Homo sapiens: one gene and its partners. The protein of the gene in region 1 purifies or fractionates together with the protein of each later gene. This does not show direct contact. Each region holds a gene or a part of one and is shown in the gene's direction. Other genes may lie near its edges. The genes, in order: TSC22D4, BTRC, TSC22D2, FBXW11, TTL, RAP1GDS1 and TSC22D1.

Region 1 (4,579 bases):
TGCAGCCCCATCCTGAATGTGGGGGTCTTTCTTTTCCCCCAGCCACCCATCTCAGTCCTGCCTCCAGCTTTGCTGTAAGCCAAGTGTCACTGAGAAATTGGGTGGGGGGAACACCTCTCAGGGACAGGGAGGGGGCCTGCTGGTTGATCCATTTCACCCCCCAGTTGTCTGGCTCACCCCCGTCCATCTGAGCCTCTCTGTGATTGATAACTCGAGGGTGACCACTGTGGAGTGGGAGAGAAGAGCCCCAGAAGGGAGTTCAGTCCCATACTCTTTCTCCTTCCTGTCTCCAAAAGAGGAACAAGCCAGGCTGTGGGGGCAGGATGCCTGGGTCCCCATGGTGGGGGTGAGCAGCCAGAGATAGAAGGTTGGATACTTCTGTCCTGTGGGAGAATATAACACCTCGGAGGTCTGGGGAAAGGCAGGGAGTGTGAGGATGCGAACTCTTTCCCCTTCCTGGCCTTGGGCACAAACCACAGTATAAAAATAACCTGGGACTGGATGTCTGGGTCCTGTCAGGACCGGTCAGGACTGGCTCCCCCCAAACCCCTCCTGGCCTCAAGCTCACATCTCTCGTGATGCCCCCTCCTACCCCCCCTCCCCCAACTCTTCTTGAACTCTTGCATTCAGCACCCACCCCAGGGGAGAAGATGCTGTTTCTCTTCCTGTCCTGTCCCCAGACTCTTCCAAAGCAAACCCCCTTGGCCTCCAGCTTCCCTGCTCTCTGTCCTTAAGCCTGGCCTGAGCTTCTCTTGGGGCCACAGACCCTGCCTCTCTCTCTCAGTGCCCCCTACTCCCCAGCCTTCCCCCACCTCCTGACGGTCTTCTGTTTGCACGCATCTGTTTTGCTATTTCCTTGCCCAAAAGTCTGTCTCCCTTCCACGTCCCCTCATGCCTCTTCTCCCTCTTAACAGAGGGGAGTGGTGGAGAAGGGCCAGGGGACACCACCTGGGCCCCCTTCCTCTGCTCTGTCCCTTAACCACCCTGGACTCTCTGTTCTTGGCTTTTCTGAGAAGCTGGGGCCTCCCGGGGCCTCACAGAGGCGTCTTGTCATGTTCCTGTCGCCCCCGCCCTTTTTGCTGCTGCCCCCAGAGCCTGTTGGGCTATGCAGGTCCACGCCCAGGCTCCGCCTCCCCCCAGCTCCACAACCAGCTCCCCCCCCAACCCTAGGGCAGAGCGCAGGAGCAGAATTCCACCTGAGTCCGAGAAGTTTGAGAGGGGAAGCGAGAGTGGGGGGTGGGTGAGGGGATGGAGGAGCAGTTTCTGAGGATCCATTCATTCTACAAATAGCTACTGAGCAAACTGACCTTCTAGCAGGGGAGAGACACAATAAATACTTTAATTTCAGATAATGTTAGGTGCTATAAAAAAATGAAATAGTTCAGTAAACCAGTGAATGATGGGGAAATGCCTCTCTAAGAGGTGACATTGGAGTCATTTTAAGAAGGCAGCCTGGGTGCAGTGGTTCACGCCTGTAATCCCAGCATTTTGGGAGGCCGAGGCGGGCAGATCACTTGAGGTCAGGAGTTCAAGACCAGCCTGGCCAACATGGTGAAACCCTGTCGTCTCTACTAAAAATAAAAAAATTAGCCAGGTGTGATGGCAGGTGCCGGTAGTCCCGGCTACTCAGGAGGCTGAGGCAGGAGAATCAGTTTAACCTGGAAGGCATAGGTTACAGTGAGCCAAGATCACGTCACTGCACTCCAGCATGGGCGACAGAGCGAGACTCCAGTAAAGGCACAGGCTGGGAGTGGTGGCTCATTCTTCCAGCACTTTGGGAGGCTGAGGCAGGAGGATCACTTGAGCCCAGGAGTTTGAGACCAGCCGGGACAACATCTTGAGACCCTGTGTTAACCAAAAATAAAAAATTAGCCAGTTATGATGGTGCATGCCTGTAGTCCCAGCTACTCGGGTGGCTGAGGCTGGAGGATCGCTTAAGCTCAGGAATTCAAGGCTGCAGTGAGCCATGATTGTGCCACTTCACTCCAGCCTGGGTGACAGAGTGAGACTGTCTCAAAAAAATAAAAATAAAACATAAAAGAAGGCAGACACGCTGCGTAGCCTCTGATTAGGGGTCCCGGCCCAGTGGGAGCTGGGGCATTGGAGTCTATTCTGGGTTCCTCCGTCAGTCACCCCCTCCTCCCACTTGGGAGACTCTCTCTAATGTCCTATACACCACTCCTCCCATTCCTTAGGTTGACCCACTTCTTGCTTCTAGTACCTGCCTAATGCCTTCTCCAGAGCTGGAGGAGGGAAGGACTGCGGGGACAGGACTCCTGGGTCCTCGAAAGAGAGTGGGGAGGTGGAGAGGGAGGAAGGCTAATAGGCAAGTTTTAAGGCAGCTGGTTCCTTTCTTTTCTCTTTTCATGTGATGGTTCCTACCTCTCCGCCTCCAGGTGCCCCCACTTGACTCTCGCCCCAGCTCCCCAGCCCTCTACTTCACCCACGATGCCAGCCTGGTTCACAAATCTCCAGACCCCTTCGGAGCAGTAGCAGCTCAGAAGTTCAGCCTGGCCCACTCCATGTTGGCCATCAGTGGTCACCTAGACAGCGACGATGATAGGTAGGTGGGCTTCGTGGGGTGGTGGGGCGTGGGGTTCAGGTTCCCCGCCCAGCACCCGGGGTAGCTGTAAGAAAGTGCCTGGTAGGCATCCTTCCCCCAGGTTGAACTTGGAGAGGACCTCTTAGAGAAACCTGGCCTGGGCATAGCCACTGCACACAGTTGATTTCGGACCCACTCCCTCTCTGTGGAGAGGGCTGGGTGGGACTCCCTGGCTCAGAACTGTCAGGTCACAGACTTTTTTAGAGTCTGAAGGGAGTCATTGTTGTCAGATTCCAGAGCTCTTGCAGATTTAGAGATCATCTGGCCAACCCAGGAACCCACTGGCAAATGCATGCTCTAGACAGAATAGCAAATCAGGCCGGGGCACAGTGGCTCCCGCCTGTACTCATAGTGCTTTGGGAGGCCCAGGCAGGAAAATTGCTTGAGGCCAGGAGTTCAAGACCAAGCCCTGGCAATGTAGCGAGACCTCATCTCTAAAAAGAAAAAGAAAGAAAGAAAAAAAAAATATATATATATATACATAAAGGAAGTAGGCTGGGCATGGTGGCTCATGCCTGTAATCCCAGCACTTTAGGAGGCTGAAGCGGGCAGATCACCTGAGGTCAGGAGTTCGAGGCCAGCCTTGCCAACACGGTGAAACCCTGTCTGTACTAAAAATACAAAAATTAGCCAGGCGTGGTGGTACGTGCCTGTAATCCCAGCTACTCAGGAGGCTGAGGCAGGAGAATCACTTGAACCCAGGAGGCAGAGGGTGCAGTGAGCCGAGATCGCACCACTGCACTCCAGCGTGGGTGACAGAGCGAGACTCCGCCTCAAAAAAAAAACAACAAAAAAAACTGAAAAAGAATGGAAATCAGTTTCCTCCCAGTTCCATCTCCCTCTTTCTCTCCTAACAAAGGACTGGGACTCCCTAACAGCACCTGTGGAGCGTGACATCCTGATAGCCCACAGGGTCTACTTTAGGATCCTAAGATTTCTAGAACCGAGAAAGCAAGTCCCTAAGATGGGCCAGCTAGGAACAGAATCAGAGCTAGGAACGGCAAAGGGGCAGGGGCAGCACTGCAGAGAGCGACTTTCTGGGGTTCTCCCTTTAGGGGACAGTGCTCTGTTGGGTGGGTTTTCAGGGCCAGGTGTCACCATTCCTAAGAAAGCCAGCAAGCTGAAAAGGGAGGCCCAGAATCGTGAGTCAGAGATAGCCAGGCTGCCTGCTTCTCCCCGGGGACTGATAGGAACCGGGCAGAAGGGCTGGGGAGTCACCGCTTTTCTTTTGGAGGGAGAAGTGGGACTTCCCGTGGGAGGTTTTCAAGGGGAGGGACTTCCTGCTTGGAAGGAAATTGGGGGTGGGGCTTCGAGAGTGGGTGAGTGGGTGCCTGAGGGACCAATTCCAGATGGGAGTCGCTCCTTCCTGTCCTCCCCAGATCAGGGGCCACTCGCTGGGATCAGGGACTCAAGCCCACCACTGATAGGGTCCTGCGGCCTCAGGGAGGATAGGGACCTGGCAAAGGAGGTGGCCAGGAGCTGGTGGGACGGAGGGCAAGAGTGCCAGTGCTGGGTGGGGCTGGGCGGGGCTGGGCAGGACTGGGTGGCTTCTGCACGCCCCATTCCCACTCTCAGGAATGTGCGAGGTGTGAGGTCGGCCAGGGCTGGGAGAGTCACCTGCCGCCATCACTGCTATTCTCAGCGTTTCCCGCCCTCTCCCTCTCCCACTTGGGAGGTTCCCCGGCAAGAGGACTCCCCGTCCCTCCCCCACCCCTGTTGAGTTCACAGCCCAGCCTCCTGCTGTCTCTGTCTTAGAGGATTCAACCTCCTGAGGCCTCCGTCTTTCCCCTGTACCCTCCCTCCCTGCCTCCCTCCATCCCACCCCCTCCCTGCACACCCCAATCTGACCGGTCCGGTTCCCAGCCTCCACTTCACCCTGCTGTGCTCCAAGGCTCTTGGGGATCTGTCCCAGCCCAGCCCCTCAAGCCCCACCCTGCCAGGCCAGCGGGTTTGGGTTGGGCCACCCCCTGCCCCCTA
Region 2 (4,579 bases), on another chromosome or scaffold:
GTTACCTGTTAAAATACATTGTGTTCCCATTTGGACTGTAAATGACAGTAAACCTTCATCATAAATTGGGAGTTTACTGAGTCCTTTTTTGAAGGCAGAAAGATCAAGAAGTAAGTGGGCAGTTCTTGGCAGATGGATGTGAAAATGCCAAAGGTAAAAGGCTCCACAGTTTTGCTTGGGATTGGCACTAAATGGCAAGATCTTTTATGTTAGTTACAAAGAAAAAACAATCATTGAGAAGATGGCTTTTGAGCCTTTCTAAAGGGTAGGTGAAGTAATCCAGGATCCAGCACTAATTACCACTTTTTTCCCCTATCTCTTTATCCACAGAAACCCATTCCCGCTCTTTTGAGTATCCTTCAGAGTTCTGACTATATCCCCTTGTCTTTGGGCATGTTTATCCTCTTAATCCCATGATAAACCCATGAAATTCCAAATACTTATACATCCCGTGTCAACTTCCTCCATTATTCCCTCGACTTTCTTGTTGCTGCTTCTGTTTTTACATGTTGACTTTATTCCTGTGTCAGTTTTCTTCCCTTTTTTAAAAAAAAATTTACTCCATCAGTTTCTCATTTTCTTCTTTCAAGTTGTCTTACCAAGCCTAATACGTCAATAAAGTCTTTCTGTGTTATACTTTTCCCCATATGCTAGCTTTGAAAGGTTCTTCCATTTCTACTAACCAAAAATAGTAAGTAAATACAGTTTTCTAATAAAGCTTTTATCTCTAAGTTTTAACTTGGTATTTGATGTTGTATTTTATATCTAGATGGATTTGACAGTCTTCCCCTGGGACATGAACTCTGTAGTTTTCTCTCTTGAATAATACTGAATATGCTGTCTGCTCAGTAATGGTAACTCTTAAAAGTATAATAAAAGACCACTTGGGAAAAGTCAATTTTCTTAATCAGCAGATCACATTTTATGATAACATTCTGAATTTAATATTTAACGTTTATCATGTACTCACATTCTTGTAGGTACTAGGCATTTCACATAGAAGTAGTCCCTGTTTTCAAAGATCTTCCATCATAAAAGGTTTTGACTTAAAACATAAAGACAGAAGCCAGTTTTCAGTACCTAGCCACCTCTTTCTGTAACACTTTGATTTGAAGAAATTCAGATACTTTACCAAGACATGGTAAATGCAGTGAGGTGGAAAACAAGATCAGAAGCTTATGTGAGTTCTCTTTCCTTAGAATGTAGATAGTATCATTGCATAGGAAGAAAGTCTTGGAGTGCTAGAGATTAAAAGAAGACAGGAATCTCAGGAATGGTGGGCATTGAGAAACAATAAAGTAGTTAAGAATGTGGGTGGGCTCAGGAGTCAGACTTAAAATCTTCACATTCAAAATCTATTATTTGCCTGCAAAGTGTTTGTAGAATAATATTGTACAGAGAAATGTACCATTAATCTGGAATTCTTTCATAACGCATCTTGTTTCCCCTTTTGTTTATGCTGGTGTATCATGTTTCATTAATCCCCCTTTTTATAAGTATTATTTTCACTTCTCTATTTCAGATTTTCTTTTCTGTATTAACACAGAAGTTAGAGCCATCTACCTTCCTGATAGGAAATTTTCTCAACTAATTTTCAGGGTATATAACAGGGAGAGGGCAGGGGAGAAACACTCCTGGAGACACCAAACAATTAATTATATTGTAATGGAGCTATAGAGGGAGGAGTGGATGACTGGCCCAGAGAAAACATGATTTCTCTGGTGCCAGGATTACACTCAGAGGCATTTCTGCCTCTCTCCACTTTGCAAGGCACGGTGCCAGTGAGAACAGCAGTTAGTACACCCATAGTGGGGTTTACTAGCTTCCACACCGTGTTTGGTGGGTTCTTAACTTCCGGATGAGGAATTAAATTTTTTACCCAGCAGGAAGTGATTGCCATTTACTGATTTTTTTTTTGTAGCAAAGATCTAGCTTGGGATACGAGTATTCCAGAGATGTGCTGTCATAAGGAAGGAGATACTAACAAATGTTGCTCACTGGAATCAGGGAAGGCAGTTAAGTACATGTGTATGTACACAGCCAGGAACACACCTGTGAAAGTCAGTTTCATGCCTTAGACTTGATAGCAGTGCTCTTAGGCATTTCTTTTTTTTCTTCTTCCCTAGCTGCTGCTGGACACACCTGTGATCCTTTTGTTTTCTGATGAAATGAACTGAATTGCTCCTTTCAAAGCATAGTTGCACTGATTAGCAGCAGCCTGGGTGACTGAGCAGCCACCACACCTTACCCTGTACAAATAAAGACCTAGCAAAAGTGATCTCCATGCCAGAGGCATTGCTGCTGTCTACAATGCTGGGGACCACTGACACAGTAAAAGGGAAAAAAAAAAAAACCTATAGGGCATGTGCTAGTTCAAAGGTAATAGTTACCATTACTAACAAAATTTCCAAAAGATGAGGCCAGTGAATCTAAGCAGTAGTCTTAATAGAGCAATAGATGAATTCTGATTGTACATATTCCATTTGTTTACTGATATTATAATATTCCTAAAGGCTTGGTACTCCGATGTTCTACACTGGAAATAATCATGTTTTACCCAAAAGCAAATCAGTGTTGGTCAGATTCTTTAGAGCCCAGAAGGTTACTCTTTGACATGGGACTCCTGAAATCAGGCTTACCTTTGCTCCTCCGCAGACAGCTATGGAGAGTATATGGAATGGTAACCGTGAAAACACTTTCAAAATATATGAAGTTCCTTATAAATATATAATGTCGGCCGGGTGTGATGGCTCACGCCTGTAATCCCAGCACTTTGGGAGGCCAAGCAGGCGGGTCATTTGAGGCCAGGAGTTCAAGACCAGCCTGACCAACATGGTGAAACCCCATCTCTACTAAAATACAAAAATTAGCCAGCATGGTGGCAGATGACTGTAATCACAGCTACTCAGGAGGCTGAGGCAGGAGAATCACTTGAACCCAGGAAGCGGAGGTTGCAGTGAGCCAACATCACACTGCTGCACTCCAGCCTGGGCAACAGAGCGAGACTCTGTCTCAAAATATATATGTATTTAAATATATAATGTCATGATTTTCACTGGGAAATATTTGTTATTTTTTAGGGGACAGTATTTATTCAAAAACAAACCTCCTGACGGGAATGCTCCTCCCAACTCTTTTTATAGAGCACTTTATCCTAAAATTATACAAGACATTGAGGTAAGAATCTATGTATTTTGGGGTATTGCCCAAGGGCACAGAATTATCAGCATTCTTCAGTCACAGTATGGTTACAGCAAGCCCATTAAGGTTTATTGACATGAGTTGGGAATCAATCTCTTAGCTGGCCATGGTGGCTCACACCTGTAATCCCAGCATTTTTGGAGGCTGAGGTCAGGAGTTTGAGACCAGCCTGGCTAACATGGTGAGACCCCTGTCTCTACTAAAAATACAAAAATTAGCCAGGCATGGTGGCACACACCTGTAATTCCAGCTACTCAGGAGGCTGAGATAGGAGAATCACTTGAACCTGGGAGGCACATGTTGCAGTGAGCCAAGATCGCACCACTGCACTCCCTCCTGAACGACAGAGCGAGACTCCATCAAAAAAAAAGAAAAGGAAAAGAAAATCAATCTCTTTACAGGCGAGTAGGGTAGGTAAAATAAATTGCTAGGCAAAATTTTAAAGCTTTAAAAAATGGTTTACTAATAAGTAGATGAGAGAGTTAAAGAGATTGATCCCTTCATACATAGCAGTGTGACTGGTAAACTTGTACTCATAAGCTCATATTTAAATATCTTCTGAATTGAACCTCCTTAGAAGTTCATCAGTAGCAATCAGTAGCAATGGCCATCACATATGTAAGAGCACTGAGTGTATAACCTCACGTAGTTCGTAGCTTTTCTTCTCTTGATGAGTAGTCTCTTTCCACCAGATTTATTATTTAATTGAACAAATTATAGGCAGGGAAGTTCTAGGAAACAACCTTTAATTACCTTGCAAAAGGAAGAATATTTTATAAATATAGATAGTAGCCTTTTAAAGACATTTTTTAGTTTTCCCTAAGTTGTGTATATCCCATAGAGTAAAGCATTGAGCCATTGATTGTCATTAAAGCCTAAAAAGAGTTTGATTCTAGGTGTTTCCTAACACTGCCTCTTTCCCATTCCTTCTTCTCAGACAATAGAATCTAATTGGAGATGTGGAAGACATAGTTTACAGAGAATTCACTGCCGAAGTGAAACAAGCAAAGGAGTTTACTGTTTACAGTATGATGATCAGAAAATAGTAAGCGGCCTTCGAGACAACACAATCAAGGTGAGGTCTATTCAGTTGTAGAAAGGTAGCAGAGGGAGCAAGAGTGACCACATTCATAGCGCAGTCTAAAGCATAAACTCTAAGCATTATTTCTAGAAAGTAAGTGAAGATTTTAGATTGTTTCCAGTCCCAAAGCCAAAATCATTTCCTTAAAGGACAGACATCAGCTTCCCCACTATACAAACGGGTAGTCCTAGGGTTAAATTCTCTTCTTGAAATGCACTGAATGGGCTGTTACTCTTTTGGCCATCACATAATTATAGACTACCCTGTTCCTTAATGAAAAGGATAAAAGTTTGCATT
Region 3 (4,392 bases), on another chromosome or scaffold:
GTTTCCTTAAAGGGATTTCAAGAATTTAACAAAAGGGTTGGGGAATGGAACCTTTGCTGTCACTATGCCTGTCTCTCAATTCTACCCTAAAGGTAAACTAAATGGAATCCTTTTATGGTGACTAGGATTAGGATGTTGATTCCAAAGCCTTTCCCTAAAATCTATTCCTTGCTCCCTGGAAAGGATAATACAGGTTCTGGCCCCCACTGTAGGTACTGACAGCCCAAGGCAGAATAGGTTTTGCTAGGCTTTAGCCTTTTATTCTTTGACATAGGTCAGTCCTGCAGGCTTCTTTTTTCTAAGTCTCCTGCCTATCCAAAACCAGACCTTTTCTCCCACCTCCTTCTGCTTCAAGCCTCTTAATAATCCATATTTCTATTTTCTAGCAATAGTAATAGTTTATTATTTAGTGATGTATACTTGCACCCCATTTACTCCTTTTCAATATTTCAGGATACATCTTTGTCCTGTATTTCTGTACCAGTTCACAGAATTTCTACAGCAAGATCCCTTTAAATGTATGGCTTTCCTTCATAGGTTGCAAGGATTACTTTATACAAGTGCTACTGTAACTATATCTTTTGTGGAGTACAATTGGTATGACATGCTGTGTTCATAGATGAAAATGCTAAGTGAGGCACTCTGAAGCAAGTTAAAGTTCACAGACATTCTTGCTTGCCCACCACCCCCCCGAACCCCGCCATGGAATCATCAAATAAGAAAAATAAGACAGATTTTCAGATTGGTGATGGCAAAGTAAGACGCTGGTATTTTGCACTGGCGCAGTCCATTTAGTTGTTGAATTTGTTCAGCATACCTGGATGGTGAGTGAGTTAGCTTTATTTTTCATTCTCAGCAGGGAAACTGATAGACTAGGCAGTTTGGGGAATTTTCCCATTGTCTACTGTCATGGGTCCATAGTATTTAAGTTTACAGACTACAACATTGTCCACAGAAGCCATATTTATCCCCTTGGAGGGAAGGGAAAGGTGTGCTAACTTAGATCATAAAAACAACTGAATTTTAAAACAAGGCAAATGCCACAGTTCAACTTCTCCATAAAAAAGTTAAGTTCATCTCTCCATTCTTTTGCATGCCTACAATATTTCCATATAACAACTGTAAAATACTCTTGCCTGCTGCAATCCAAATGTTATCCGGATCACAGTTCTTGCTGTCATTTCACAGGCATGCAATGTATCTATAGATAGGTCATATCATACCTGAGGAAGATCAGAGACAGCAAGGGAACATTTTCCCCACACTTGAGATGGAAATAATAACAGGTCAGTGGCTAATAAAAAGAAACATGTATGACTTTGTAAAACCCTAAAAGTGATGTTTTCAAGAAATTTAGGTTTCTTTTTTTTATTTTATAAAAAAAATGTTGACATGCAATTTAATTCTATTTCAATTTAGGTGCTGCAACCTGTACTGGATGTTTGGGGATAGAAAGATGAATGGGACATGATTTGTGTGCTCCAATGAGCTCAGTCCAGTGTAAGTGTAAAAGTTAAAGTGCCATATTGTTTATTCAGAGTATATGTTATAGTTTGTGAACCTTATATCATTTGTTAAATGAAAGGTTTTTATAAATCAACAGTAATATTGCCATCCCATGTAAAAATCCTTTGATATTGCCAGGAAACAACTTTAAATCACCAGAAAGCTTTAACATCAAATAATACTTTTAGAAGGAGGGGAAAAGCCTTCCACCTCGACATCGAGCCTATGAAGTATTCCCTAAAAAAGAGGAACTAATCTGAGAAAAGTTTACACATTTTTAATACTCTAAGTTGTAGATAATGAAATTGATTTAAATCAAAGTTAACTAGAATAGGATTCATGTGTCATGAATTATATTGTCTATTGTCTCATAAGCAACAAGTGACACTTATTATCTTGGCTGACAAAATCAGCTACCATTTAATGAACCAAGTTAAGAATAACTCAGGTGACTGATACCAAAAATAAATCTCTAATACAGCTGAGAATCCAGAAACACAAATAATATGTTGAGTAAGTAATAAAAGTGACATTTCAAATTAGTAAGGAAAAAATGGATTATTCAACAAATAGTATGGGATAGCATAACAATTTAGAAGAAATATAAAGTTAGATCTTTCACAAAAATTAATTCTAGCTAGACTAGCAGTTAGTCTTCTACTTTTTGGTTACTCCCTTTTAGAAATTGGAAGCTATGAAGCTATATACCCTGTCCATTTGAAAATGCACATAAGCAAAGAACTTTACAAATAGGTTATAAAGAGAAGCTCAATCTCAGCAAAATAAGGGAAGTGCACATTAAAACACAAGAAACCATCTCAGATCCAACTAATATTTAGCGTGCATACAAATCAAAAGCTGGAAAGGGTGTGGAAAAACAGGAATACATTGCTAGTGAGCATACAAATTGGCACAGCCTCTTTTAAAGACAATTGTGTATCACCCATTAAATTTTAAAAGTCACATACCCTGTGACCTAACAATTCCAACTTTTAATGTCCTAAAGAAACATACATGTGTTCACAAGATAGCCTGTACAATGATGTCAATTGCACCTTTGCTTGTACAGTAGACCCCCTTATCTGCATTTTCACTTTTTGAGGTTTCAGTCATCCAAGGTCAACCACAATACAAAAATATTAAATGGAAAATTCCAGAAACGAACATAAGTTTTAAACTTCAAACCTTTCTGCATAGTATAATAAAAATCTCTCACTATCCCTCTCCATCCTGCCTGGGACAGGAATCATCCCTTTGTCCAGTGTATCCACAATGTATACACTCATTATATACCCATTTTATAATGCCCATTAGTCATTTCTATTATCAGATCATAAAAAAACATAGTACATAGAGGGTTTGGTATTATTCATGGTTTCAGGCATTCAGTGAGGGTCTTGGAAAATATCCTCCATGATGGGGGAGCTACTGTAATACTATGAAATTGGAAAAACCAAAATACTCATCAAGAGGATGGACTATGGTACACATGATGAAGTATTAAGTATCAATGAAAAAGAGAGAGTCCTACATGTCCGGCATGGAAGGATCTCCAGGAGACAATGTTAAAAGTTTGGGGGAAAAATTGAAAGACAATACCTGTAATACATATGATACTAGTGATGTTAAATCACATCACACACACACACACACACACACACACACACACACAAATACTGTATAGTGTACTTCTACAAGTACATATTTGTGTATTATATAGAGAGAAGGTCTGGAAGGATACTAACCAAACTGTCAACAGTAGTTTGGTAGCGTGCATTAGCTTTAACTGTAATGTTTGATGTTTTTGAATATGCATTTATGTATTGTTTGTGTAATGACAAATTAATAAATTAGAAATAAAATAAAATAATGTGTTTTCTTCTTGTCTGCTGCTAATGTTTCCCCCTGGTACCTGGGGTCTCATCATGTTCAGCATCTTTCCTCCCCAGGAATATCTTCCCCCCCTACCTGTTTCTTCTACTTCGCCTTCTCCCATGGCTTTTTCACATCAGTATTTATACAGGCTCAATAAATAACTGGCCAATAAATGAGTAGACCACCTCCCCTAACTGAAAATATGTTCCCTTCACTTGCTTTTTCAGCTCCTTCCTCTTCCTTTCCACTTTTTCCTCTTCCACGTACAGCTTATCACAAACGCAGTCTGGCTTTAGCTCCCATTGTGCCACTGAAACTGTTCTTGTCAAGGTCATTGATGATCACTTTGTTGCTAATTCTATCCCATATCTTATTGAACTGCTTTACTCCTAATTTCTCTTTATGATCATTTCATTACTCTAGTAGTTTTCTATCTCTTCATTTTCTAACTTCACTTTTTTTTTATAAAGAGTTTCCCTTATAAAAAGTATATAGTTGAATTTTCTTTTCTGAACCAGGCAACACTTCATTCCATGAAATAGAATAAGTGTTCCCAATTTTTTTCTTTTATAGAGATGAAGTCTTGCTATGTTGCCCAGGCTGGCTTTGAACTCCTAGGCTCAAACAATCCTCCCACCTCAGTCTCCCAAGTAGCTGGGACTACAGGTATCCACCACTGTTTCTGGCTTGAATTTTTAATTTCTTAACCCAATCTGTCTTTTGATAGAAAAATTTAATCCATGTCTATTTCATCAGTGGCATATTTGGATGTATTTCTGCCATCTTATTTCATGTTTTCTCCTTAAAATGCTTTCTAGACACCCCACCCCCGCACCGGCCACTGCCTTGCCACACACACACCCTTTTTCCCTTTTCTTGGCTTTCATTCAGTTGTTTCTTATTCATTTTTGATCCCTCTTTTGGTTGGGAAGTTATACATTCCAGATACATTCTTCCAGTGGTTACCTTACAATTTTGTTTATCATTTTGTTGTGGATTTTTCAACCATAT
Region 4 (4,579 bases), on another chromosome or scaffold:
AAACAACTAGGATTTATATGCGGCAACTTACTCCCACAGTCACACCAATTGGTATGAGACCAGTGCCTGGAAGTTGAGAGGGTTTGAGCTTTATTACAAAATAGCTGTTTCATAATATCAGCATGGAGGATTTCTCCATATCCTTGCCAACACTTCCTATTATTTGTCTCTTTTATTATATCTGCCCTAGTGATTGTGCAGTGGTACTCTGTGGTTTTGCTTTGCATTCCCTTGTTACTGATGATGCTAAACAACTTGTTGTATGCTTATTGGCCATTTGTGTACCTTCTCTGGAGAAATGTCTATTTAAATCTTTTGCCCACTTTAAAAATTGGTAATTTGCCTTTTTATTATTGAGTTATAAGTTCTTTATATATTCTGGGCACAAGTCCCTTATCAGATACATGATTTGCAAATATTTTCTCCCTTTCTGTGAGTTGTCTTTTCACTTTTTTGATGGTGTCCTTTGATGCACAAATGATTTTAATTTTGATGATGTTCAATTTATCAAGACTTGTATAGTTTCAGTGCTTATGTGTAGGTCCTTGATCCATTTTGAGTTAAATTTTTGTTTAAGGTATGAGGTAGGGGTCCAGTGCCATTCTTTTACTTGTGGAGATCTATTTATCTATCCCATTCAGCTACAAATGCAGCTGGTAAGATAATTCAGGGCACTCTGGTTGCTGTGTGTCTCCTTATTTGTCTAATAATATGTTTAGCTGTCTATGAACATCTAAGTCAGATACCACAAAAGAGGGGATTATTTATTCTGCATACATACAATTAGAAGTAATGTGTCAAAACAAATGGAGCTGTTCCAGAAAATATGCTGGAAAAGAGGATGATATGAAAGGTGAGACTTTTTGTTTGTTTTTTGAGACAAAGTCTTGCTTTGTCACCCAGGCTGGAGTGCAGTGGCACAGACACAGCTCACTGCAGCCTCAACCTGCTGGGCTCAAATGATCCTTTCACCTCAGCTCCCTGAGTAGCTGGGACCACAGGTGCATGCTGCCATGCCCAGCTAATTTTATTTTTTGTAGAGATGGGGTTTCACTATTTTGCCCAGGCTGGTCTCGAACTCTTTAGCTCAAGCAATTCTCCTGTCTCAGCCTCCCAAAGTGCTAGGATTAGGTGTGAGCTACCGTACCCAGCTGGAAGCTTTTTTATTACATTAGCTCCATGGGGTTTGAAATGTCAGCTGGTGTAAAAACATAAAATCTGGCCCAAACTCTTTCCTCCAGGTAAATGAGCGTTTGAACCATTCAGGAGATGTTCTCTTTGTAAAGATCTCAAAGACTGGAGACTTCACTTCCCTCCGTGTTTCATTCCAGTGTTATTACTCAGCAGCCAAGAAAATTTTATGCTGTCTAGTCTGCCCCCCAGCCTCCCAACTTTGAGTTAGAGGACACCGTATTTTATAATCACATATTTGGGTCATTATCAGAAGCTCTGTCTTTTTAAGAAAGGTATATTGTGAGAGGACTTTCCTGTGTTCATTCTTTAAAATACTGTTAATTTGTTATACAGGTCTGGAGCACGAGCACCTGTGAATTTGTTCGTACTCTCAATGGGCACAAGCGGGGCATTGCCTGTCTCCAGTACAGGGATCGCCTGGTTGTTAGTGGATCATCAGATAATACCATTAGGTGGGTAGAAGTTGGTGTGCTGACAGAGCAGGCTGATTTTTGCCACATTGTTGACTCATCTCCTAGTTCTAATGCTCAAAACAACTCAGGGTAAATGGGATGTTTCAGATAAGAAAGCTTTAGGTAACTTTTAGAAATGTATTTGGGCTCTGTATACTCAAGTGGGAAAACCGTGTGTGCCCTGGGTGTTCTTCCAAGATTCCCCCAGTACACAAAGTTTTTTAACCTCAGCTCCACCTGGGATCACTTAATACCAGAGCACTTCAGAACAGGCTAGGGTGCTGCAGTGCAGCCCAGCTCGCTCCAATTTCCCTCACCTGTGAGCTCCCACCTCCCTACCTAACACATGGGAGTGTACTTTATTTTCCTCTCCCAAGACTGCATCTGTTCCTGCCAGGTCATTTACCTCTCTTTTTCCTTCCCAGCACTCGGCCTCCCTGCTTTCTAATAAATCTGACTAACCTTAGACATTTTGTATCTTACTAAGAACATCCCTTCAATATCTACTTCATTATCCCATGCCATTTCCCCACTGTCTCAACACACTCTAGTGGCATTACATAAGTGACTAAACTTAACTTTGGTTTATAATCAAATTGACTAATGTTTGGTCAAAATAAAGATAGGATTCAAGATTATTAAAAAAAGTTTTTTGTTTTTTAAAGGCAGGCAAGCAAACACATGCTAGTAGCTTTACATAAGTGACTAAACTTTGGCGTTTATAATTGCCTAATGTTTGGTCAAAATAAAGATTGGGTTTAAGATTATTAAAACTTTTTTTTAAGGCAAGCAAATAACAAAAAAGCTATTTAAGTTTGCTTTATCACTTTAGGCTTCAAGATACCATAAATTTAGTTTAGAGCTTAAATCTTGATTCTCTTATATTCATCATGCTTTGTGGTATTGCTTAATGTTTCATCAATAAACAGTTCTTAACTTCCTCATTGGAATTGTCAAGGTTTTACAAGATAGTAATGTGTATTACTCTCCAGCTTATAGAAGGGAACTACTTTGGAGTCATAGTGGCAGTACTGAATGGCTTTGATCACAGATTAGAGATGCTATCATCACGGGTACTAAGAAGATTTGCTAAGGGCAGCTGTAATAAAATACATTCTTTGGATGTATCATAGGAATTACTGGTAGAGAGGCTAAGAAAAAGTTATAGAATTAATTTGCTCACTTTATTTTGTACATGCTAACTAGCTATGATTTTTTTCTACAAATACTGTAGAAAATCAGTCATAATAGGAAAAAAGATCTCTAACTCCAGAATTGTTACATAAATCATATGCAGAGAAAAAGACTTGGTGTTGTCAATGGGTTTATATTTCCACCAGAACACTGCGTGTACCTAGTAAGTCTCCCACTCTGACTTTGTAAACCGTCAATCCCAGTATTCAGCATATAGTATCAAGGAAGGGGTATCCCCAAGCCTCATCAAGAGACAGCCACCTCCCCTGCTGGTCCGCCAGTTCTAACCTCAGTGGTCCTTATGGACTCCACTGTGCTAGAAGTGCCTGGGGCGGAAGCTTAACCCCCTGGCTGTACGTGATATCTCCTTTCCCACCTTGTCTCATCTGTGCTCTTTCTCCTTTACTGCCTACAATCCCTGTCTCCCCAGAAGAGTCTTTCCTACACCATTTGTCTACATGGTTTTTATCAACTCAGACATCAAGAGAATGCCTAAGGATTAAATAGAATTGAAGTTTCTTGTTTGTTGATTTTATTTAAATAGTAATACAGACGCATGATTAAAAACAGTTTCAAATCATATAAAAGGAAATAGAATAAAAAGTAAGGCTTCTTCCTAGGTTAGTGCTTGGAAACACACAGATGGTATAAATGTACACATACAGCTTTATATGTGTGGTGTGTACTGGAAGTGAGATAGAAATAAAGAGCTCCAAGATAGTGAAAAATTGTATCTGTATGGAACAGATATAAAAAACTTACGGATAGTGTGAATCGTGTGTGGGAATTTGTTTCACAGAGGTCTGTTTTTCATTCAAGGCTCTGGGATATTGAATGTGGTGCCTGTTTAAGAGTCCTAGAGGGACATGAAGAATTGGTCCGATGCATCCGGTTTGATAACAAGAGGATTGTCAGTGGGGCCTATGATGGGTATGTCTTTCAGATTTTCAGATGTACTGCTATAACTGTATCAAGAAGAAAGAGAAATGTTATATATTAAGCAACTCTGTATGTACCAGGTCCTATGGTAGGTTTCTGTGTAATGGTGGATGGCAGGTATTATTATACCTGTTGTTTAGGTGAGGACACTCAGGCCCAGAAAGAAGAACTAAATCTTACCCCAAATCACACAGAGGGAGAGTCACTGTGGTTCCTAAACTTAGCTTTGAATCATCGCTGTCAACTCCAGCAATAGCTTAGGTTTCAATAGTTGATGTGGGGGTATTGACTTCTTTGCTTTATCCCTAAATTAAGCCAGGCTCTTTGTGTGTGTGTGTGTGTGTGTGTGTTCGTTCAACAATAAGTTTCTTCTTTTCCCTTTTTTTCCCTTTTTGGTAAATTGAACAAACCCTCTTTAAAACACCTCACTACATTTTAAATGAGCAAATGGCAACTGTAAATCTTTCCAGATGACCTTATATATACTTCCCAAATGGGTTAGTTGGTCTGTTTGTACTCCTATTACTAACTTCCAGCATTTGCTTAATTTGGAGAAAGGTATCCTTGGAATTTCACACAGAGCCCTAGCTTCTGTCAGCAGCACCTACTCAGCCCTAGAGAGTCCCCTGATGAATGAATTTGGTGACATAGGTTATCAAGTCCGGAACTGAATTTAGATAACCTGAAGTTGTTTTCTTATCTCCCTTAAAATAATATTTCTTTAAAATTTCAGCAATTCTGAGAATGTGTAGGTTCTTAATTTTTCCAAAATCAAGTGTAATTGGTTCAGATGATTTGTA
Region 5 (4,579 bases), on another chromosome or scaffold:
CCCATGAGGAAATGGGACAAAAGCAAAGGACTTCCTGCAGAGCCTGGTCTTGGTTCTGTGCAGGAAATGAGGGCTTCCAAACCAAGGTCATCTTACAGACCAGCACTGTCCAACAGAAATAGGATGCTACCCACACATGTAATTATAAACCGCCTAGTAGCCACATTAAAATAAGTGCAGAGAAACAGCTGCAAGCCGGGCGTGGTGGCTCACGCCTGTAATCTCAGCACTTTGGGAGTCTGAGGCGGACAGATCACTTAGGGTCAGGAGTTCGAGACCAATCTGGCCAGCATGGTAAAACCCCATGTCTACTAAAAATACAAAAATTAGCTGGGTATGGTGGTGGGTACCTGTAATCCCAGCTGCTCGGGAGGCTGAGGCAGGAGAATCGCTTGAACCTGAGAGGTGGAGGTTGCAGTGAGCCGAGATCATGCCACTGCACTCCAGCTTGGGAGACAGAGTGAGACTCCTTCTTAAAAAAAAAGAAAAGAAAAGTAACAGCTGCAATTAAATTAATAATTTATTGCCGGGCGTGGTGGCTCACGCCTGTAATCCCAGCATTTTGGGAGGCCGAGGCGGGCGGATCACGATGTCAAGAGATTGAGACCATCCTGGCCAACATGGTGAAACCCCGTCTCTATTAAAAATATAAAAATTAGCTGGGCATGGTGGCAGGCGCCTGTAGTCCCAGCTACTTGGGAGGCTGAGGCAGGAGAATTGCTTGGGCCCAGGAGGTGGAGATTGCAGTGAGCTGAGATCATGCCATTGCACTCCAGCCTGGGTGACAGAGTGAGACGCCGTCTCAAAAAAGAAATAAATTAATTTAAAAAACCCAAATAATTTATTATATTTAACTAAATAAATCCAAAATGTTATTTTGACATGTAATTAATATAAAAAGCTATTATATTTTACGTTCTTTTATTCACTCTTCAAAATCTAATGTGAATTTTACATATGTAGCACATCTTAATTCAAACAGTAAATTTTCATTGGAAAGCTTTGATCTGAATTTAGATTACATAAAAAATGTATGGTTGAAGAAGTAGATTTATGTACTCAAGTTGTACATAAAAGTTTTTCAACAACTTTGAAAGCCAGAAGATCTATTTCCTTTAATATTGCACACACATTTTCAAAACTAGTTCATCTTTTCTAGAAGAATTGATTTGACTATGAAGCAAAAGCTTATTTTCAAAATAATGTCCAAGTTAAGTAAATTCACCAACTCTTGTGTTAGTTTGATACTGTAAATATCAAATTCAAAGATGTATTGAATATATTGAAAAGTAACTCTAAATTTACCAATGTCAACAAAGTGTTCCTCAGATTTCTTTTAGTTTTTGCAGCCAATTTTCATAATGCTATTACAATTAACATTTTTTGCATACTGAATCATGTTGTAAAAATATGTGAAATCATTATTATCAACTTATGAAGTTGGAACATAAATTCTCACACCTGTCTGGGTGGATCATAAATAAGATCTTCTCTTCCCTTCCTTGGAGCTTTAAATTTATCTTGTTTATATGCAGTATGAAGATAGATGAGAAAATGCAAATGGCAGTCATTTTTTATTTTGATTATTGAAATAATGAATTACTGAGTGAAAATGATGATTTGACAAACATTCCTTTTATTTTCAAGAAAATCTGAATTGGAGTTGAAAAGTAAATCTTTATTTAAAAAGACCCTTCCCCTTCTCCATCAGTGAATACTGGCAGAGAACACAGTATCATTAAATTCATTGTCTTCTGTTTCCATGAACTGGAGAATCATTGAGTATATACAGAACCATTTTAACAACTGTATCCGTGACACTTAGAGTCTGCTTCAGAAAACCTAGCACAAGGCCGGATGTGGTGACTCACACCTGTAATCCCAACACTTTCAGAGGCCAAGGCAGGTGCATCATTTGAGGTCAGGAGTTCGAGACCAGCCTGGCCAACATGGTGAAACCCTGCCTCTTCCAAATACAAAAAAAAATTAGCTGGGCATGGTGGTGTGCGCCTGTAATCCCAGCTACTTGGGAGGCTGAGGCACAAGAATCGCTTGAGCCGGGGAGGCAGAGTTTGCAGTGAGCCGAGATTGTGCCGCTGCACTCCAGCCTGGGCAACAGAACCAAACCCTGTCTCGGATAAACAAACAAACAAACAAAAAGCAGACCTAACACAAATGTTTTCAACATGTAACACATAATGCAATGAAGCAAATGTTTCCAATATGTATCATACAATAAAATGAAGTAGTAAAGGAAACATTAGTCTACTAAAATCTTAGTAAATCTTTTTTTTTTTTTTTTTTTTTTGAGATGGAGTTTTACTCTGTCACCCAGGCTGGAGTGCAGTGGCACCATCTCAGCTCACTACAACCTCTGCCTCCCAGTTCAAGCGATTCTCCTGCCTCAGCCTCCCAAGTAGCTGGGATTACAGGCACCCACCACCATGTCTGGCTAGTTTTTTGTATTTTTAGTAGAGACGGGATTTCACCATGTTGACCAGGCTGGTCTTGAACTCCTGACCTCAGGTGATCCACCTGCCTCGGCCTCCCAAACTGCTGGCATTACAGGAGTGAGCCACTGTGCCCAGCCATAAATCCATATTTTAATACAACCTAACTGAAGTCCTATCTGTCATGATAGAAAGAAATTTTTTGCATGTAGGTAAAATTCTGTGACAGATGTAAGAGATTTTAAAATATCTATACTATGAGTTTGCGTGTGTGTGTGTGTTGGAGTCTCACTCTGTCACCCAGGTTGGAGTACAGTGGCACGATCTCAGCTCACTGCAACCTCCGCCTCCCGGGTTCAAGCAATTCTCCTGCCTCAGCATCCCGAGTAGCTGGGACTACAGGCAACTGCCACCACACCCGGCTAATTTTTTGTATTTTTAGTAGAGATAGGGTTTCACCGCGTTAGCCAGGATGGTCTTGATCTACTGACCTTGTGATCCGCCTGCCTCAGCCTCCCAAAGTGCTGAGATTATAGGCGTGAGCCACCACTCCCGGCTGAGTTTGATATTTTTTAAGCTGCAATTTGACAGCATTTTATCATACATTTGGAAATCCTTTGAGGCAAAACACCCAAAGTATTAATTGGACAGCATCTTTTATGTCACACAGTTCACCTAAAGCTAAAGAAAAATACTTAATATTTTTCAAATTTTGAGTCAATCTTTGATATTGTTAGAAAGGTTTTGTAGTCTGTGGGCAATTGTGACTCAGCTGAAGATTGTTCATTTTTTGTAAATTATATTTTTAAGTCTTTTCCTTAAAATAGTTTTTTAAAACTACATTTGCATCTAAAATGGTTTTCTTTTTGTGTAAGAATCCAAGCCATTTTATAGTTGCCCAAAATTATAAACCCAGACTCTGTAAAACATTTGCTTAAAAAATGTGTTGGATATTGTGATTTTAGCCACTAGTTTCATTAATTTTTTTGAGCATTGAGAGGAAAATACTTATCAAGTTTATTATGTATTTGCTAAAAATGTCTCCTTTACACAACCGTTTTTTCATTTTACTTTTACCATAGCCTATTGCAGTCACCATTTCTTGTGAATCTGTGGCATACCTCCTTTCAGTTCTTTTTTTTTAAATCTCTTACTGTCCTTGTCATAGTTCTAGCTTCTGTGTCCCTACTCAATTCCACGTCAGTAGTATGCCTTCGTTTTAAATTTAAATTTTTGTCCAAATATTTTTTTAACTAGGAAGAAATTCTATTTCACCTTAGTCCCAATTGTGGTATTTGTAGCTAGCACTGTAATTCATGCTCTCTGCATAGTAAACATATCATAATGTTTCATCACTGCACAGAAATCACTTGATCTGAATCAATCTATTGTCCCTGAATAGAATAGCGATGTGTTTGTGTGTGATACTAGAAATGACACATGGCCCTGACGTGCATGCTGCGATACAACAAGAAAGTGAAGTATTATCTCACCATATCAATAAAGTTGTGCTTAATGGAAAAATATTTTATAATGCATCCGTTTTTAAATTAAAGGCAAATTAAATTTTAGGCCTGACCCAGTGGCTCATGCCTGTAATCCAGCACTTTGGGAGGCTGAGGTGGGTGGTTTACCTGAGGTCAGGAGTTTGAGACCAGCTTGGCCAACATGGTGAAACCCTGTCTCTATTAACAATACAAAAATTAGCTGGGTGTGGGCCGGGCGCGGTGGCTCACGCCTGTAATCCCAGCACTTTGGGAGGCCGAGGCGGGTGGATCACGAGGTCAGGAGATCGAGACTATCCTGGCTAACACGGTGAAACCCCGTCTCTACTAAAAGTACAAAAAAATTAGCTGGGCGTGGTGGTGGGCACCTGTAGTCCCAGCTACTGGGAGGCTGAGGCAGGAGAATGGCGTGAACCCAGGAGGCAGAGCTTGCAGTGAGCCGAGGTCGCGCTACTGCACTTCAGCCTGGGCGACAGAGCGAGACTCCATCTCCAAAAAAAAAAATTTGCTGGGTGTGGTCACGGGCGTCTGTAATCCCAGCTACTCGGGAGTCTGAGGTGGGAGAACGTTTTCAACCCGGGAGGTAGAGGTTGCAGTGAGCCAGGATCGCACCACTGCACTCCA
Region 6 (3,566 bases), on another chromosome or scaffold:
CGTATTTACGCACATTTTTAGATTTCTTATTTTTGTTATAATCATTCCCTTTCTGTTTAGAGAACTTCCTTTAGCCATACTGCTAGCAACAGATTTTTAGCCAAAAAAAATTTTTTTCATTCATAATGAAAGGGAAATGACATTGTCAAATGACAGAAAATGGGTATAGGATTCTGGGTTCACAGTTCTTTTCTTTCTTTACTTGAAAACTATTGTGCCACTTTTTTCTAGCCTCCCTGGTTTCTGATGAGAAATCCATTGTGTTCTTATGTGTTTTATTCCCCTGTAGGTAAGGTTTCATTTTTGTCTCTCAAGACTTTCTTTGCGTTTAGTATTCAGAAGTTTAACTATGATGTGTCTTGGCATGGATTTCTTTGGGTTTATCCTGTTTGAGTTTGCTCAGCTTCTTGAATTGATAGGTTTATGTCTTTTGCTAAATTTGAGAAGTTTTGACTGTTACTTCTTCAGGTACTTTTCAGCCCCATTCTATCCACTCTTTCCAGACCTTTGTTGACACTAATGTGAGATCTTTAATTATAGTCTTGTAGGTCCCTGAGGTTTTGTTCTTTTTTACCCACAGATTATTTTCTTTCTGTTGTACAGACTGAGTAATTTCTATTGTTTTATCTTGGAAGTTCTCTGATTATTTCCCTTGTCCCCTCTATTCTGATGTTGAACCTGTTTTTATTTCAGTTATATATTTTAGTTAAAAATTTCCATTTGCTTCTTCTTTATATCTTTTATTTCCTTGCAGAGACTTTGAGTCTCTTCCATTTGTTTAAGCATTTTTAGAATTGTGGTAAAACATACAAAACATAAAATTTACTGTTTTAACCATTTTTAAGTATACAGTTTAATGGCATTAAGGACATTCACATTGCTGTGCAATCATCACCAGCATCCATCTCCAGAACCACCTTCATTTTCCCAAACTGAAACTCTGTACTCATTAACCAATAACTCCCCATTTACCCCTCCCCACAGCCTCTGGCAATCACCATTTATTTTGTGTCTCCATCATCTGACAACTCTAGTCACCACATATATGTGGAATAAGAAACTCCTGTCCTTTTTTGTCTAGCTTATTTTACTTAGGTCTTTAAGGCTTATCTGCATTGTAGGCGTGTCAGAATTTCATTTCCTTTTAAAGCTGAATAATTTTCCATCATATGTATATATCACATTTTGTTTATCCATTCATCAATCCATGGACATTTGGGCCATTTCCACCTTTTGGCTTTTGTGAATAATGCTGCTGTGAACATTGGTATGCAAATATCTCTGAGCCTCTGCTTTTAATTATTTTTGATATATACTCAGAAGTGGAATTACTAGATCATATGGTCATTCAATGTTTAATTTTTTTATTAAATACTGTTTTTACTAATTAAATACTGTCATACTCTTTTTCACAGTGGCTGGACCATTGTACATTTCTTCCAGCAGTACACATGGATTATCATTTCTCAACATCCTCACCAATATTTGCTGTGTTTTAGTAATGGCCAAACTAATGAGTGTGAGGTGGCATCTTACTGTGGTTTTTATTTGCGTTTCCCTAATGATTACTGATGGGAATCTTTTTATGTGTTTGTGGGCCATTTGTATATCTTCTTTGGAGAAATGTCTATTCAAGTCTTTGCCCATTTTTAGAATTGAAGGGTGTTGTTGTTGTTGTTGTTGAATTGTAAGAGTTTTGTTTTTTTTGAGACGGAGTTTCGCACTTGTTGCCCAGGCTGCAGTGCAATGGTGCAATCTCGGCTCACCGTAACTTCCACCTCCCAGGTTCAAGCGATTCTCCTGCCTCAGCCTCCTGAGTAGCTGGGATTATAGGCATGCACCACCTGTAGAGATGGGGTTTCTCCATGTTGGTCAGGCTGGTCTCAAACTCCCGACCTCAGGTGATCCACCCACCTTGGCCTCCCAAAGTGCTGGGATAACAGGCGTGAGCCACCACGCCTGGCCCAAGTTGTAGGATTTTGTACCAGTACCCCACTATCTTGATTATTGTAGCTTTGTAGTAAGTTTTGATATCAGTTAGTATGAGAACTCCAGCTTTGTTCATTTTCAAGATTGTTTTGGAGATTTAGGGTCCCTTGAGATTCCATATGAATTTTAGGATGGATTTTTCTATTACTACTAAAAACACTGGTTCATTGGTTTATGTCAGTCATATCAAAATAAACACATCAGTTTCAGTAGTACTGATTACATTAAGCTTATTAGACTTCACTCATCCCATATAACAGTTCTCAGAGTCCTAACAGGAATCCTATATTTTCTTGTAATTGAAGTTAAATAGAGAAAGCAAGTCAGAAAGAAGAGGACAAAAAATCTAAAAGGGAGTCCAGTGTCACAGAAATTTGTTGAAGGATATGAAGTATAAACTTTTCTTTTGCCACAAAATTAATTTGAAACATATCCTAAGCTTTTTGGTAAGTCATTGGACTTCATATTTGAACTGGTGATAGGGTTGTATGTAACCAAACCTTGAGATCATACAGTGAGCTGTGTTTAATTATAACTCATTATTGTAATTAATCTTACATTGTAGAACTTGACGTCTCGTTTTTCTTTTTAAAAATTGGGCAAGTAGCTGTGCAGTGGCTCATGACTGTCATCCCAGCTACTTGGGAGACTGAGCAGGATGAATCCCTTGAGGCTAGGAGTTTGAGGCTGCAGTAAGCTGTGACCATGCCACTGTACTCAAACCTGGGCAGCAGAGCAAGTCCCCATCTTTAAAATTTTTTCCTTTAATTTAAAAAAAAGTAAAGTTTTTATGATTTTTTTAAATTATAATACATTTCTAAGAAAGACATTGCTAGGCTACTGCTATGTCTTTTTCCAGAATTGTTTCTAGTTTTATAAGCTTAGTCTTGTCAAAATAAACATTTTGGTATATGTTTTGGATAGACTTAGAACAACCTAACAGAATCATATCTGTTATTTTTTTGTCTTCCAGAATGTCTACACAAGGAAGTACAGGATTTGGCTTTTCTAGATGTCGTATCCAAACTTCGCAGTCATGAGAACAAAAGTGTTGCCCAGCAGGCCTCTCTCACAGAGCAGAGACTTACTGTGGAAAGCTGAGAACTGCCCGATACACGGCATCATCCCATCTCTAATTTCCCCTCTGTCCTCCATCCAGCGGCTTCTTCCGCTTCATTCTCTACCATACCACTTGTGCATGCATGTGATGTTCTAATACCAATTGAAGAACCGCTGTAGGTACCTCCCTAATAAGATTTCTAAACCTATAGTTAGTGTGATCATGACTTTGTCAAAGGCAAGTCTCCACCCATAACCGTTCTCTTGTATTCCTGTTGCTTGAGCTACATTAAGTAGAATGTGCATGTTGTAGTCCTATGATGATGTAAACTTGGTACTACATAATGACTTGCTCCACACATGCAGTAAACTACATAATGATGTACTGGTAAACTAGAAACAAAGAATGCAGCAGGATCTGTCTAGCTTATTAAAGATGAAACTGAATTGGAAAAATAGCTCCATTTTTTGGTGCTTGGGAAGCACAGTGACCAAAAAAGTTGTATGGCTGCTTATTC
Region 7 (4,579 bases), on another chromosome or scaffold:
CATTCCGTGTTTTCTTCCTTGCTCTGTTTTCAGTAAAACTGCCTTTGAGCTTATCTAATTGTTCCATTAGATCTATCATACACCTATCAGTAGCTCACCTGTGCCCTGCAAATGCTTAGATGTGTTAGATAATCTGTGTGTTCATTAGCACGGAAGCTCTCCCTCCTGGAGTTCTCCATCTTCCCTTACCATTGCAGACCAGGTACAGACCAGCTGCAGCTTGGGCTTGTCCAGCAGCAGTCCCCCTGAGATCTCCCTGCACTCCAGCCTGCTGATTCCCTTCCTTTCCTCCAGTATCTGAGTTCCTGGTTCCTATTTCCCATGCCTGCCTTTTTTCTTGATTTGCTCCTCCATTTTGGTGTCTGAAATATCTAAAAATGTTTTAATTCTACCTTTACACTCAAATGATGATTTGGCCAAGTAAAGAATTCTGGATAAAAAAACTCTTTTCTCTCAGAATTTTAAAGACATTTTCTTCATCTTTTTCTGACTGCCAGCAAAGTGGTTCTGTTCCTAGTCCCTGTGTTTGTAACTTGTTTCTTCCATTTGGAAGCTTTTAGTATTTTCTCTCTATGCCTAGTGATTAAGGTTTCAGGGTGGTGTGCTTTGGTGGAGGGCTTTTTCATTTCTTGTGGTGGGCATTTGGTCATCTCATTTAACTGGAGACTTGTGTCCTTCAGTTCTGGAACAATTCTTAAATTATTTGATAATTCTCTTCCTTCTGTTCTCTCTCCAAAATAGAAATGCATCCTATTTTGATGTTGGACCTCCTAGATTTATCCTTTTTCTTTTCCGATTCTTTTTTTTTTTTTTTTTTTTTTTGAGACAGAGCCTTGCCCTGTTGCCTAGGCTGGAGTGCAATGATGCGATCTCAGCTCACTGCAACCTCTGCCTCCTGGGTTCAAGCAATTCTTCGTCAGCCTCCCCAGTAGCTGGGATTATAGACATGTGCCACCACGCCCAGCTAATTTATTTGTTTTTGTTTTTTTTTAAAGTGGAGACGGGGTTTTACCATGTTGGCAAGGCTGGTCTTGAACTCCTGACCTCAAGTGATCCGCCCATCTCACCCTCTCAAAGTGCTGGGATTACAGGCATGAGCCATCGCGCTCGCGCCCGGCCACTGTTCTACTCTTTTGGAAGCTTTTTCCAACCAGCCTTTCTGTGGAGATAAGGAAATGTAAATTGTGGTTGAATTTAACAGCCATTTCTTTGGCATTTCTTCTTGTTTTGACAGTGTGTGGGACCCAACACTAAAACACTATTTGTTGTTTTTCTGCCATTCACATTTAACTGATAGTCCTGTAGTTTCATTTGTTAAACCTGGTAAGTATATTCCCATGCCTAGTGAGAGTAAACTAGAAAAATGGAGGTGACGTGGGAGTCCTTAGACAGCAGTGATTTGGTCAGGTACAGGGTAATGTGCCTTCGCTTCTTTCCTGGCAGTTGTTTTAGATTTGCAAGGAGTTTGGATAGGGGGAGAAAGAGGTTACTCTATTTCAGTGCTGAATCTCCAACTGTACCGGTGTTGGCCAAGTCAGATTAAGTTTGGAAGAAAAGCACATGTTACAGGAAACAGAAACACTCAGGCCTGTTCCTCTTTTCCTATCCTGTCATGCTTGCTACCAATATGCAGTAGCAGTTGAATTGGAATCTGTGTAAAAAGGCTTTTAGGCAGACAACACTAGAAAATACCTCAATCTCAATTGTCCAGGCTGTTTAATGTGTATGAGTTCCCACTGAGGTGATACCTCCTGATCTTTGCTCAGTGCCTGAAATAGACTTATATGGTCCATGGCTTTAAGGATCTCTCCTGGAAGCCTTGTAGTATTTTTCTCTGCCCTGTCAGCAAGTCTCAGTGAGCTCTGATGAGGCACCAGACATATGGATCGTTTGTCTTGCAATTAGAAGAGCCTTTGAATGTAATTCTAGCCATTTGTGCCACGGACATTTCTGATCCAAGGGTTTTCCCTCCATGGAGCTTTCCATTTCCTTTGCCTTCTTTTTCAAATTATGTCTTCTCAGTTTTCATACAAAAGTCTAGTTTTAAAGGAATCTAGCATATTTATGTGAAATATATGAGAAAATTAGATTTCTAATCATTTTTTTAGTTGCCTATCCTTTGGCTCAACAAATTCTCCAGAAGTGTGCACACACACATACATGTTCAAGGATGTATGTAGAAGGATGTTCCTTGCAATTTTATTTAAAATATCCAAGTATTAACAATAACTGTAATGTCCTTCAATAGGAAAATGGGTTAAATAGACTATGGTTGCTTATATTTGCTTCTCTTGCTTGATACAATGGATGATCAGTTAAAATGATTGAAATAAAAACAGCTTTCTGTTTATGTTGAAGAACGGCATGAATAAATTCAGTTAATTTAGTAATTTTTTAAAACTGCAGCTTGGAATTTAAAAATTTTTTTATATGACCTTAGAGTTTTGTTTTTTAAAGCTCTTTTTATAGCTTAAATGGTGCTTTAATACCCTTTTTTCATGAAGTTGGCATTCAGTTAAAACATGTAAATGGAATTTAGCATACAAATAGTTTTAGGTATAACTTTAACTTTCAAAATATAGAGACTATCATGTAGTAAATAATATTCTGGTTAGCATTCATAGACATAGGGACCACATGCCAGCTTCCCAAATAATTACGATTTCTAAGCTTCTACTTAGTCTCCTTTTGTTGGAAATGGGTATCTTTTTTTTTAAAGCATCATATGAGTTAATATATGTAATTTTTATAAATTATAAATATGTTAACAATTATTGTTATTCAAAAGCCAAGCCTTAAAATTTGGAGAATATGAACCTTTCAGTAAAAAGGGAATCTCATCACTTTATAGTTGGTCACACTTTGGTTTTTAACCCAAAAGAGAATTGTGGTCTTCATCATTTACTGTGCTTACCGATCTGGTCTGGTTCCTAATAACTTTGGACAGTTTCTGAAAACCAAATCTACCTACCCCCACTACCAGCATTGAGTCAACTTAAAAACTGTCTAAATGGATCTGATGGCAATTTTAGAAAAGGATGCTGCTTGAGGAAAGATGCTTATTTTGGAGAGAAGACTGTGTGTGTTTGTGCATGTGCGTGTATTACATATATATGTTCTACGGTCAGATTTTATGTTGGAATTATTTGTGATGACACAATTTTATCTACAGATTAGAGAGGTCTCCCCAAGTACTTTGTAGATTTTTTGGTTTTTATATTATGCCATTAGAGGGCAGTATTGTAGAGGTTAAGTTTTCTTTCTCGCATGTATTGACTTGGAAACTGTTTATGTTGTATTATAATTTAGCAAACTTCAGGGCTTAGATTTCTAGTATATTAAATTGTAGCCTTAATTGATGCATCCCTGCAAGTATTTTAAATTAATATAGGAAATTTTGAAAGGGTTAAGCTATTTTATACCCACATCTCTCGATTTTGGTTTGGAGAAGGGAATTATTTGGTCAGTGTGGCCAAGAGGGTGAAACAGAGGTGAGCCTACAGCATCTATTGGCTGCTTAACTATTTTTAACCACCATTATATCCTCCCTTTTCTGGTTCTGGACACTGCAAATGGGCAGAGACTAACTTCAAGGATTTGTATGCTTTGAATACATACTTTATAATATTTCAATCCCTCTGATGTAAGAAGGCTCATAGGATTGAGGGATTGAGTCTTAGAGGAATTGTCACTCAGCTTGCAAAAACGTGCCTTAGGGACTTAACTAAAAATAGATTTATGTGGAATTCAACCTGTGGATTGACTTTTTTGGGTCTAAATAGAAGAAGGCATATTTAGTTACTAGGGAGAAGATGCTAATAGGGAGATGTGATTTTAAGGTTTGTGGCTCTACGGGCTTTTTGGGAAGATCCTGGATTTTATCTGGAGTCTTTCCCTCATGCCTAGCAAAGAATATATAATGTTTTTTGTTTTGTTTCTATAAAACAAAAGGTAGTATCTCTCAAAGAGCAAATGTGATTTTTTTTCCTCTAAAATTAAAAAAATACATGATTGCAGGGTGATTATTATCTTTAAAAATAAAACCGTCTATAAAATCCTCCCAGTACCGCTGCCGGTAAGAACTAGATAATTGAAATCAAGACACTCGAAGTCTTACAGTGGTGGGACTGGGCATGCCCAGTAGCTCAGACGGTTCGGGTTACAAATAGGAAGCTTTCGCCGTTAAGCAGCCGCGGGACACAGCTCCGGGGACCGGGGTCTGACTCCCTTAAACGTAAGCACGTGTGGGGGCCCCCATAGTATTTTTCAGGGACCCTTCACATTTTCTGCCGAAGCAATGGCCCAGTGTTTTGAGGCCGCCGTGGAAACCTCCGAACCCAGCACCCCACTCCCTCTGAGCACGGCCCGCGCCAGGCCAGCCCACCCCACGAGCGGGATCTGGAGAATGGGGGCGGAGGTGGGGGTGGGGGGAGGCGGGGAAGCAGGGAAGCGGGAGGACCTGGAAGGGAGTAGGGGGCGGTCCCAGTGGCGTGCCGGCCAATCGGCGCAGCTCTTTCCTGCATATATTTTGCACTAAGACTGGGAGTCCTGGTCTAGAGCTGAGTGGAGCCCGGCTGCG

The links.
Region 2: the proteins of TSC22D4 (region 1) and BTRC purify together in Homo sapiens (affinity purification with mass spectrometry; 4 studies listed by BioGRID and IntAct, with this or other methods). This does not show direct contact.
Region 3: the proteins of TSC22D4 (region 1) and TSC22D2 purify together in Homo sapiens (affinity purification with mass spectrometry; 4 studies listed by BioGRID and IntAct, with this or other methods). This does not show direct contact.
Region 4: the proteins of TSC22D4 (region 1) and FBXW11 purify together in Homo sapiens (affinity purification with mass spectrometry; 4 studies listed by BioGRID and IntAct, with this or other methods). This does not show direct contact.
Region 5: the proteins of TSC22D4 (region 1) and TTL purify together in Homo sapiens (affinity purification with mass spectrometry; 3 studies listed by BioGRID and IntAct, with this or other methods). This does not show direct contact.
Region 6: the proteins of TSC22D4 (region 1) and RAP1GDS1 purify together in Homo sapiens (affinity purification with mass spectrometry; 4 studies listed by BioGRID and IntAct, with this or other methods). This does not show direct contact.
Region 7: the proteins of TSC22D4 (region 1) and TSC22D1 purify together in Homo sapiens (affinity purification with mass spectrometry; 4 studies listed by BioGRID and IntAct, with this or other methods). This does not show direct contact.

What each region holds. Positions count from the first base shown.
Region 1 is NC_000007.14:100,472,258-100,476,836, reverse strand, and holds part of TSC22D4 (TSC22 domain family protein 4), read left to right. Parts: intron 1-2,396; coding exon 2,397-2,563; intron 2,564-4,579. Other genes in the region: TSC22D4-C7ORF61 (uncharacterized protein LOC122198330), read left to right, coding at 2,397-2,563.
Region 2 is NC_000010.11:101,528,157-101,532,735, forward strand, and holds part of BTRC (F-box/WD repeat-containing protein 1A), read left to right. Parts: intron 1-3,080; coding exon 3,081-3,177; intron 3,178-4,138; coding exon 4,139-4,276; intron 4,277-4,579. UniProt on the Homo sapiens protein: Substrate recognition component of a SCF (SKP1-CUL1-F-box protein) E3 ubiquitin-protein ligase complex which mediates the ubiquitination and subsequent proteasomal degradation of target proteins. Recognizes and binds to phosphorylated target proteins.
Region 3 is NC_000003.12:150,463,050-150,467,441, forward strand, and holds the end of TSC22D2 (TSC22 domain family protein 2), read left to right. Parts: 3' UTR 1-3,373; downstream 3,374-4,392. UniProt on the Homo sapiens protein: Reduces the level of nuclear PKM isoform M2 which results in repression of cyclin CCND1 transcription and reduced cell growth.
Region 4 is NC_000005.10:171,869,939-171,874,517, reverse strand, and holds part of FBXW11 (F-box/WD repeat-containing protein 11), read left to right. Parts: intron 1-1,527; coding exon 1,528-1,646; intron 1,647-3,659; coding exon 3,660-3,770; intron 3,771-4,579.
Region 5 is NC_000002.12:112,488,283-112,492,861, forward strand, and holds part of TTL (tubulin--tyrosine ligase), read left to right. Parts: intron 1-4,579. UniProt on the Homo sapiens protein: Catalyzes the post-translational addition of a tyrosine to the C-terminal end of detyrosinated alpha-tubulin.
Region 6 is NC_000004.12:98,439,028-98,442,593, forward strand, and holds part of RAP1GDS1 (rap1 GTPase-GDP dissociation stimulator 1), read left to right. Parts: intron 1-2,962; coding exon 2,963-3,090; 3' UTR 3,091-3,566. UniProt on the Homo sapiens protein: Acts as a GEF (guanine nucleotide exchange factor) for the Rho family of small GTP-binding proteins (G proteins) that stimulates the dissociation of GDP to enable subsequent binding of GTP.
Region 7 is NC_000013.11:44,436,831-44,441,409, reverse strand, and holds part of TSC22D1 (TSC22 domain family protein 1), read left to right. Parts: intron 1-4,117; exon of another isoform or gene 4,118-4,234; intron 4,235-4,551; exon of another isoform or gene 4,552-4,579. UniProt on the Homo sapiens protein: Transcriptional repressor. Acts on the C-type natriuretic peptide (CNP) promoter. Acts to promote CASP3-mediated apoptosis.